2 linked regions of the Homo sapiens genome follow. The protein of the gene in region 1 interacts with the protein of each later gene in a biochemical or structural test. Each region holds a gene or a part of one and is shown in the gene's direction. Other genes may lie near its edges.

Region 1 (2,970 bases):
GAAGCAATAATTGTTCCATCTTGGATTATCGGTTTTGCTCTTTGATTTGGTAAAGTTTTTGTTTTTCTACTCGTGCCAGTTGTATTAAAATGTCACTAGGTTAAAAACAAACACAGATATGTTTATTCATTACTGTATCCCTGTAATAATGCCTGGCATGCAGTAGGTCCCTAATATTTGTTGAATGAATGAATTATAGAATAGAGTGCAAAATTAATTCTAATGTATTTTAAAGTAAAGCATGAGAGTTCAAAGAAATGTTGTATTTGCCATCTACAACTTGGAATAATGTTCCTTGATCCTGCTTTACTTCATGCACTTTTGCCAGCAGAGGTGGATGCCTTAGGGAAAAAGTTGGATAAATGCTGATCTAAGGCAACACGTCTAAATGGTTATGTGAACATTTCCCAGTTGGGGTAAAACTAAGAGGAGTGATAATAACATCTCATCAATTTAAAGGACAAGTTCACTGATCGTACTGTCATACTCCAGAGATACATGTGCCAAGAAGCAAAGAGATGCACTCTTGTATTCCAGAAAGAAGATGATTTGTAAGTGTTCAGTATTTGTGTGGCAGCCCTTTTAGGTGTAATGAAGTGTAACAGAAAAGTAAGTGAACTACTTCACATAGCTCTTAATGTTTGTCTTTCAGAGGACATACGAGTCAGGCAGCAAAAGTTGGAGCCATTGTATGATTGTGTGTCAAAATGAGAGTCACACACTTCAAGAACTGTAGGAACTAATTTTAGAAAAAGACTCTTCAGAACAGATGACACATGAAATGTGAGTTTATGTAAACATGTAAATTTGAGTAGCATTAGTTTGTTTTCTGTTTAGGAACTGTATCAGGGTGACAAAGATGAAAGAATGCTGCCAGAAAAGTATATTGTTAAATTTTCAGGCCTCCATTGGTGAAGTTTCAAGTAACCTTTCACTTAAGTTACTTGTGTCAGAGGATGGATGATGGGGTCATTTAAATTGTTGGACAAAGCCATGAAAGGACTTTTAAAATTTTGTCATAAAAATAGCCAATGATGTTTTTAATTTTACATCTAAAACTAATTTGCATTATCCTGTGTTAGTGACTGAATCTCAACTCAGTCCTCATTTTTTAGTTCAACTTTTGACAACCTTATATTCATTGACACCATGGACAGCACAGTAAAAAAATACACAAATTTCTTTTGCAGTTATTGATTTGGAATGATCACTTTAAAAGAGCCATCAAATACGCCTACATATTGAGCCACTCTTTATCATTAAGGTGAAAAGTTCATTCAATTAAGGTATTTGAGTGCTACTATGCGCCAGCCTTTCTTTGTGATAATGTTAATTTTTTTTTTCCTCCCCTCCATGAAGGGAAGAAAAAAAAATTAATTCGGCCATGAATTTTAATATTCTGGCCAGCACCTTATCCATTTGTAGCCACGCCAACAAATTTATTCTGTGATATACCAAACTTACAAAGTCACTCTGCGATTTCAGTAAGGCCCATTCCCAACATGAGTGCTGCTGTCCACGGTACTGAACCATCAATGCTAAATGGTATTTAGTTGTGGATCTTCATCCTGTCATGCAGCTAAATATTCCAGGAATACTGAACCAAGTGAGGAGAAAGATAGCAGTGGGTTGCTGCAAAGGAGGTGAGGGGAGGGGAGAGATAGCAAGTGAGAAAAAGAGAGACTAGTGGTGATGTTTTTAAGTAATTGAAGTAAAAAAGAGAGAGAAAGAGAGAGAGAAGAGGTTCTACTCAGTCCACCAAAGCTTTTTAATTTCCTTACATAATTAACATGATGAATTTTTAAATAATTGTTATATTTAGTTTTGTTCTTCCACCTTTTGGCTATTTCTACTACATATTTACTTATCATAAAAAATACTTCCTAGACCTTCCTCTTATAGCTATTGCCTATCTCTGCCTTTGCAGCTGTTCTCCTTTAAAGAGTAGTCTCCATTAGTTTTCTTGACTTCTTCATCTCCCTGCATAAAGATGAAGGGTATTTAGCTCTGAAAATCCTTTACTGTTGAATATTTAGATTGTTTTCAATTTTTACATAATGAACAATGCATCATGGGATTATTGGCTGCAAATAAATTGGAAACATAAAAGGTGTTTTAAGTTTAAATTTTTTTAAAAAAACAGGTAAAAATAAAATATTTGCCAAAGACTAAGGGTTGCAAAGCTACCTCATGATACACTCTTATACCAATACTAAAATAAACTTCACAACAACAAAATTAGTGATTGGGAAATTACAGTTTTGATGAACTTGGCATTTCAATCAAAGTCATATTTGCCACCGTTCTCTCAGTAGCTTTAGGCCAATTTCCAAATTGCTTTCGACAAATTAGTTTTATTTGTTTATATTATATTATATATATATAATATACATATATTTAAATTATATTTATAATTCTTTCAGTCAGATTTCCTGGAGAACAATAGTTGTTAGGTGCCTACCAGAAAATAGGACTAGAAAGTCATGTTGGAGCCATATTGTGGAAGTCCAAGGAAGTCGGATGGGAGCAAAGGTCATTTCAATTATATATCAAGCTTATATTCTATGGAAACTAACCCCTTCCTAGCACATATATTATTGAAAAATTATTCACCTGCTATTTTATCAATGTCATTTATAAATTAAAATTTTTCTTATTATAACTATACCTTAAAAACACCAATAAAATTGCCAGATCACTGATATTCCTGCTTTTATTATTATAAGATAATATATCAGTTCTTCAAATACACCTTTGAGTAGAAGGATGGAACTGAAAATTGATTTGGGTTTATTTAAAAGAGAAACCTTTCAACAATCCTAAATCTCAGATTTTTAATAGCATTTTTGTTGTTTGAGTATGGCCAGTTTCCTATTTATTTCCTATTTCTTATTGTTTGACAGTGCCCATTTATGTAGGAAAATCAAAATGGAAAAGTACATTAGAAAACGTATAAATCCTTCAACTTAA
Region 2 (8,022 bases), on another chromosome or scaffold:
GATGTGAGCCACCGCAGCAGCCCTACTTTGGTTTTTTTTTTTTTTGAGACAGAGCCTCTCTCTGTTGCCCAGGCTGGAGTGCAGTGGCGCAATCTCGGCTCACTGCAACCCCTGCCTCCCAGTTTCAAGCGATTCTCCTGTCTCAGCCTCTGGAGTAGCTGGGATTACAGGCATGAGCCACCATGCCTGGCTAATTTTTGTATTTTTAGTAGAGACGGGGTTTCTCCATGTTGGCCAGGCTGGTCTTGAACTCCTGATCTCAGGTGATCCACCCGCCTCAGCCTCCCAAAGTGCTGAGATTACAGGCGTGAGCCACCGTCCCCAGCCCCATATATACATACTTTGAACTAGTTGAGTAAGGTACAGATGTCACACCTACTATGGACTGAATGTTTGTGATGTGATGGTATTTGGAGTTGGGGCCTATGGGGGTAATTAGAGTTGGATGAGTTCATGGGGTAAGATACTGCTTATGATGGACATGGTGCCCTTGTAAGAAGGGACACCAGAGAGCTTGTCTCTCTGAGAGCATGCACTAAGGAAAGGGCATTTGAGGACACAGTGGCAAAGTAGCCCTCTGCAAAACAGGAAGAGAGCCCTCACCGGAGTGCAACTATGTTGGCATCCTGATCTCAGACTTCCAGCATCCAGAATGTGAGAAAATAAATGTCTGTTGTTTATGCCACTAAGTCCATGGTATGTCACACAGGCTGGAGTGCAGTGGCTCGATCTCGGCTCACTGCAAGCTCCGCTTCCCAGGTTCACACCATTCTCCTGCCTCAACCTCCTGAGTAGCTGGGACTACAGGCGCCTGCCACCACGCCTGGCTATTTTTTTCTTTTTTTGTATTTTTTAGTAGAGACAGGGTTTCACCGTGTTAGCCAGGATGGTGTCGATCTCCTGACCTCGTGATCTGCCCGCCTCAGCCTCCCAAAGTGCTGGGATTAAAGGCGTGAGCCACCGCGCCTGGCCCAAGTCCATGGTATTCTATGGCAGCCTGAGCCGACTAAGACAACCCCTAAATACTGCATGTACATCTGCTAAGAATAAAGACATTCGCTTACATCATCACACCAAGAAAATTGGTAAGCTCCAGAATATTCAATATCCAATTCGTAGTTAGATTTCTTCCAAATTGTCCTCAGAATGTTTTCTATTTATTCAAAATTTTTGTTTATTTATTTAATTTATTTTAGAGACAGCATCTCACTCTATGGCCCAGGCTGGTGTGCAGTGGTGTGATTATGGCTCACTGCAGCCTTTACCTTCTGGGCTCACGTGATCCTCTTGCCTCAGCCTTCTCAGTAATCAGGACTACAGGTACACACCACCACACCCAGCTTGGAATGTCTTTTTTTTTTTTTTTTTTTGAGATGGAGTTTCTCTCTTATTGCACAGGCTGGAATGCAGTGGCACAATCTTGGCTCATTGCAACCTCTGCCTCCCGGGTTCAAGCGATTCTCCTGCCTCAGCCCCCCAAGTAGCTGGGACTACAGGCGTGCGCCACCACGCCCAGCTAATTTTTTGTATTTTTGGTAGAGATGGGGTTTCACCGTGTTAGCCAGGATGGTCTCGATCTCCTGACCTCGTGATCCACCCGCCTTGGCCTCCCAAAGTGCTGGGATTACAGGCGTGAGCCACTGCACCCGGCCTCTAATTTTGTACTTTTAATAGAGATGGGGTTTCGCCATATTGGCCAGGCTGGTCTTGAACTCCTGACCTCAGGTGATCCACCCACCTGGGCCTCCCAAAATGATAGGATTACAGGTGTGAGCCTCTGCGCCTGGCCCAGAATGTCTTTTTATAGGTGCTTTTAAATTTTTCAACCAGAATTAACTGGCCATGGTAGCATGTGCCTGTAGTCCTAGCTACTTGGGAGGTTGAGGCTGGAGGATCACTTGAGCCCAGGAGTTCAAGGCTGCAGTCAGCCATGATCATAACACTACACTCCAGCCTGGGTGATAGAGAGACACCCCATCTCTAAAAAAAGAAAAATAGCCTGTAATCCCAGCACTTTGGGAGGCCGAGGCGGGCGGATCACGAGGTCAGGAGATTGAGACCATCCTGGCTAACATGGTGAAACCCCATCTCTACTAAAAATACAAAAAATTAGCCGGGCATGGTGGCAGGCGCCTGTAGTCCCAGCAACTCAGGAGGCTGAGGCAGGAGAATCGCTCGAACCCGGGAGGCGGAGGTTTGCAGTGAGCCGAGATTGTGCCACTGCACTCCAGCCTGGGCGACGGAGTGAGACTGCGTCTCAAAAAAAGAAAAAAAGATAGCCAGGCGCGGTGGCTCACGCCTGTAATCCCAGCACTTTGGGAGGCCAAGGCGGACGGATCACGAGGTCAGGAGATCGACACCATCCTGGCTAGCACGGTGAAACCCCGTCTCTACTAAAAATACAAAAAATTAGCCGGGTGTGGTGGCGGGCGCCTGTAGTCCCAGCTACTCGGGAGGCTGAGGCAGGAGAATGGCGTGAACCCGGGAGATGGAGCTTGCAGTGAGCCAAGATCGCGCCACTGCACTCCAGCCTGGGCAACAGAGAGAGACTCCGTCTCAAAAAAAAAAAAAAAGAAAAAAATATATAAATTTAAATAAAATAAAAATTTCAACCAGAATCTGGACAAGTTCCACACACGTAACATTTTTTCATTTAGAACAATCTCCCTACTTACCCCCTGGCCACTGTCATTGACAATTTTGATGAACCAAGGCCAATTGCCTTATAAAATGTTCCACTTTCTACATTTATCTGATGTTTCCTCATGCCTAAACTCAGTTACAGTATTTTTGGCAAGAATTCTACATAAGAGATGCTGTCAGCCAGATGAGGTGGCTCATGCCTGTAATCCTAGCACCTTGGGAGGCCGAGGTGGGAGGACTGCTTGAGACCAGGAGTTCAGGAGCAGCCTGGGCAACATAGTGAAACCCCATCTCTACAAAAAAAAATTTTTTTTAATTAGCCAGGCATGATGGTTCGGGCCTATAGTCACAATTACTCAGGAGGCTGAGGTGGGAGGATCACTTGAGCCTGGAAGGTTGAGGTTGCAGTGAGCTGTAGTCACGCCACTGCACTCTAGCCTAGGCAATAGAGGGAGAGCCTGTCTAAGAAAAAATGTCACGAGATGCTGTCTACTTTACACTGCTTCGTATCAGGAGGCATCTGATGGTAGGTGATCCTGAGTTGGAGTACTGCGTTAAGGTGGTATGGGGGGCAGGTGCAGTGGCTCATGCCTGTAATCTCAGAACTCTGGGAGGCCAAGGCTGGCAGATTCCTTGAGCTCAGAAGTTCAAGACCAGACTGGGCAACAATGGTGAAACTCCATCTCTACAACATAATACAAAAATCAGCCAGGCGCGGTGGCTGATTTTCTCCCAGACTGAGGAGGGAGGATCACCTGAGCCTGGGAGGTCGAGGCTGCAGTGAGCTGTGATCACGCCACTGCACACCAGCCTGGGTGATCAAGTGAGACCCTGTCTCAAAAAAAAAAAAAAAAAAAAAAAGGTGGTATGGGGATCCACTTTTTTTTTCTTGAGACAGGTTCTCGCTCTGTTGCCCATGCTGGAGTGCAGTGGCAGCATCTTGGGGATCCATTTTGAACCTCTTCAAGCTTGTCCCACCTGAGGTCTGCAGCCACATGTGGCCCAGGACCACTTTGAATGTGGCCAAACACAAATTCGTAAACTTTCTTAAAACATTATGAAATTTAGGCAGGGCACAGCGGCTCACGCCTGTAATCCCAGCACTTTGTGAGGCTGAGGCAGGCAGATCACTTGAGGTCAGGAGTTCGTGACCAGCCTGGCCAACATGGTGAAACCTCGTCTCTACTAAAAATACAAAAATTAGCCGAGTGTGGTGGCACGCGCCTGTAATCCCAACTACTTGGGAGGCTGAGGCAGGAGAATCACTTGAACCCAGGAGTCGGAGGTTGCGGTGAGCCAAGATCACACCACTGAACTACAGCCTGGATGACAAAGTGAGACTCCGTCTCAAAAAAACAAAACTAAAACAAAGAAAAAAAAACTGAGGTTTTTTGTTTGTTTGTTTTTTGAGATGGAGTTTCGCTCTTGTTGCCCAGGCTGGAGTGCAATGGCGCGCAATCTCCACTCACCGCAACCTCCGCCTCCCGGGTTCAAGCAATTCTCCTGCCTCAGCCTTCCCAGTAGCTGGGATTATAGGCGCGCGCCACCACGCCCGGCTAATTTTGTATTTTTAGTAGACATGGGTTTCTCCATGTTGGTCAGGCTGGTCTCGAACTCCCAACCTCAGGTGATCCGCCCGTCTCGGCCTTCCAAAGTGCTGGGATTACAGGCGTGAGCCACCGCGCCCGGCCAAAACATTGAGGGTTTTTTTGGCGATTTTTTTTTAAGCTCATCAGCTATCGTTAGTGTTGGTGTATTTTACGTGTGGCCCAAGACAATTCTTCCAATGTGGCCCAGAGAAGCCAAAAGATTGGACACCTCCATTTATAGTATAAAATGAAAGCCACTAGGCTTTCGGCTCAGCCCCTTTTCCTTACACTGCCAGTCAGCTGCGCTCAGGGACCCGCAGTTCAGAGTTCAACACGGGCAGATTCCCTCTCTTCCTTGCTTGCTCCTGCCAGCCGCAGCCGTGGGCCAGTACAGCATGGCCCGGCCCCGCCCCGGCTCTTTCCAGAGGTCCGCAGCCTGGCCGGCCCAGCGGGCGGAACCGATAGTGTCTGGCACTTGGCTCGCCCGGACTCTGAATCCTGGAGCACCAGGCGCCCACGAGAACGCTGTTCTCTTTGGCTTCCGGGCGCACGCTACTCTGTCGCCGCCGTCAGACCGGAATTGCCGGTGCCGCCGCCACCGCTGTCTGTGCGCCCACCTCTGCTGCTACCATGGGGATCTTAGAGAAGATCTCGGAGATCGAGAAGGAGATCGCTCGGACACAGAAGAACAAGGGTGAGGGCCGGCCGGGCGGGGCCTTCCTTTCTGCCTGCCTCAGTTTTCCTGTCTGTAAAATGGGGGAACAACTCCAGCAGTAATGCTGGGGCAAGATCCGAGGCCGCGGAGAAGTTGCCAGACAAGTGCCGAGGCCGCCCTGCGCGCCCAAGGCAGGGCCAGGCGGGAGCGGGTCTCACGCCCAGGTCTGACTGCAAACGTACCCCAAGAGATCTGGTCAGTCCCAGACCGTGTGCCCGAGTAGAGTAGTCCCAGCTCACAGAGCAAGCATCTGACCCAGAGAGAGGCGGAGCTGGGGTTCAAACCTCAGTCTCCTGATGGCTGGGCCTGGGGCCTGGGTCTACTCTGTTGTTTTGGGAAGTGCAAGAGGAGACCTCTCAGGAACAGCCTCACCCAGCAGCTGAGAGCCCATTGGAGCAAGGGAATCAGGACTCTGGAGTCTGGAAGGCCTGGGTTTGAGCCCCAGGTCCACCACGTACCTTCTGTAAAACATTGGAAAGTCACTTCATTTCTTGGAGTCTCAGTGTCCTCATCTGTAAATGGGGTAATACTCCCCTGCTCCATCTTAGTACACAGCTGAGTTAAATTAGATGGCCTTTACAAAGCACTGGGCACATGGTGAGCACTCAGTATTTAAAGTAAACACCCCAACATAGATAATACATAATGAAGCCTCAAATCTGGACTTTAGAATGTAAGGGCTGGAGGAGCTCACAGAAGAGAGGTGAGGAGAGAACGATGACACCAGGACAAAGTGGGACTTGAGCTGGTTGTTGGAAGGGTATCCCAGGTGGGGGCCACTGCTGAGACAAAGACATGGGAGTGAGCATGGTATGTTCATGGGACAGTGAGAACAATCTAGATCAGAAGGGGGTTATGGAAGAGTAATGGGAGATGCAATTGGCCAGGCTAGTGGCTAGCCATTCAGGCTTGTGGGAGCAGGAAGCAAGCAACACTAGATAGCTGGTCCCAGTGTCTGCCCTCCCTTGGTTCCATTTAGGTTTGAAGGCCAAGGAGTTGAGGGCCCTCTATGACTCATTCCTTCTGTAAATCTTTTTTGTTTGTTTGTTTGAGACAGTCTTGTTCTGTCACCCAGGCTAGAGTGCAGTGGTGCCATCTGGGCTCACTGCAACCTCTGCCTCCCAGGTTCAAGCGATTCTCCTGCCTCAGCCTCCAAATAGCTGGGATTACAGGCACGTGCCACCACACCCGGCTAATTTTTGTATTTTTTTAGTAGAGAGGGGGTTTTGCCATGTCGTCCAGGCTGGTCTCAAACTCCTGACCTCAGGTGATCCACCCGCCTCGGCCTCCCAAAGTGCTGGGATTACAGGCATGAGCCACCGTGCCTGGCCGATCTTTCCTGAGCCTTTACTATGTGCTAGGCACTGTGGTTAAAGCAGTGAACACAGCAGGCATATCCCAGCCCTTGGATCTGATCTTCTAGTTGACGGTCTGAAAACTAGAAATCAAATAAATAAGATAATGTCAGCCAGCAATATGTGCTATGAAGACAAACCAGGGTGATACAGCAGAATATTGGGGGTGGGGAGGGACTGGGGATTGGGTCTGCTTAGGTGGAGTGATAGAGAAGACCACCATGAGGATGGGGCATTTGAACTAAGACCTGATTGAAAAGAAGGAACCGGTCACGCAAACATCTGGGGGAAGAGGGTTCCTGGCAGAAAGAGCAGCTAGTGCAAAGGCCCTGAGGCAGGAACAAACTTGGCTGTTTACAGGTCAACAGGACTGGGGCTGGGGTGCAGTGATGGGACAGGAGGGGGTTGATCATGCAGAGCCATAGGTCATGGGAAAGACTCTGGGTTGTGTTCTAAGGCAGTGGGAGCTGGTGCAGGGTGTTAAGCAGGGGAGGGGCTATTCTGACTTCTGTCTTGAAAGTTCCCTCTGGCTGCTGTAATATTCCATATTACCCATAAGACCCAAGGAAAGTCACAGGGAGGCTAGAGATGCTGCCACTTTGGCAGTAGTAGACAAAGGAGATATAAAGGTGATTAAGACCTAGTCCCTCCCTTCAGAGATGCTCAGAATTTTAGGAGCTGGGATGACAGGAAGGGCCATGTGTACCTGACTGACACTGAATCCTTTTTTTTTTTTTTTTTTTTTTTTGAGACAGTCTTGCTCTGTTGCCCAGGCTGGAGTGCTGGAGTGCAGTGGTGTGATCATAGCTCACTGTAACTTCAAACTCCTGCATTCGAGCAATCCTTCCACCTCCACCTCTTGAGTAGCTGGGACTACAGGTGTGCACCACCACACCGGGCTAATTTATATATATATATATATATATATATATATATATATATATTTTTTTTTTTTTTTTTTTTTTTTTTTGAGATGGAGTTTCACTCTTGTTGCCCAGGCTGGAGTGCAATGGTGCAATCTCGGCTCACCGCAACCTCCGCCTCCCAGGTTCAAGGGATTCTCCTGCCTCAGTCTCCCAGGTGTGTGCCACAACGCCCAGCTAATTTTGTGTCTTTAGTAGAGACAAGGTTTCTCCATGTTGGTCAGGCTGGTTTCGGACTCCGGACCTCAGTTGATCCGCCCACCTCGGCTTCCCAAAGTGCTGGGATTACAGGCGTGAGCCACCCCACCCGGCCAATTTTTATGTTTTTTGTAGAGGCACGGTCTCACTATGTTGCCCAGGGTAGTCTTGAACTCCCAGCCTCAAGCAGTCCTCCCTTCTCAGCTTCCCCAAAGTGTTGGGATTACAGGTGTGAGCCACCCCACCCGGCCAATTTTTATGTTTTTTGTAGAGGCACGGTCTCACTATGTTGCCCAGGGTAGTCTTGAACTCCCAGCCTCAAGCAGTCCTCCCTTCTCAGCTTCCCCAAAGTGCTGGGATTACAGGCATGAGCCACCATGCCCAGCTGCAGAACCCATTCTTGACCATTTCTTACTGCTATCAATTCACTGATTCACTTGGTAAAATATTTCCTGTGTGCCTGGGCCCTGTGCTGGAGGCTGGGGATCCAGTCCCATTTCCTGACCTATCGGAGTCAGGGAAGTAAAGAAATAAGATCATTTTCAGAGTCGAGAAGACAGTAAACCTGCTCATGAGGCAGGAAGCAGTCTGGGGAAGGG

What was found.
Region 2: the proteins of RWDD1 (region 1) and DRG2 form a complex in vitro, tested with the Homo sapiens proteins (one study listed by BioGRID).

Annotation. Positions count from the first base shown.
Region 1 is NC_000006.12:116,595,504-116,598,473, forward strand, and holds the end of RWDD1 (RWD domain-containing protein 1), read left to right. Parts: 3' UTR 1-2,172; downstream 2,173-2,970. UniProt on the Homo sapiens protein: Protects DRG2 from proteolytic degradation.
Region 2 is NC_000017.11:18,083,162-18,091,183, forward strand, and holds the start of DRG2 (developmentally-regulated GTP-binding protein 2), read left to right. Parts: upstream 1-4,786; 5' UTR 4,787-4,862; coding exon 4,863-4,926; intron 4,927-8,022. UniProt on the Homo sapiens protein: Catalyzes the conversion of GTP to GDP through hydrolysis of the gamma-phosphate bond in GTP. When hydroxylated at C-3 of 'Lys-21' by JMJD7, may bind to RNA and play a role in translation.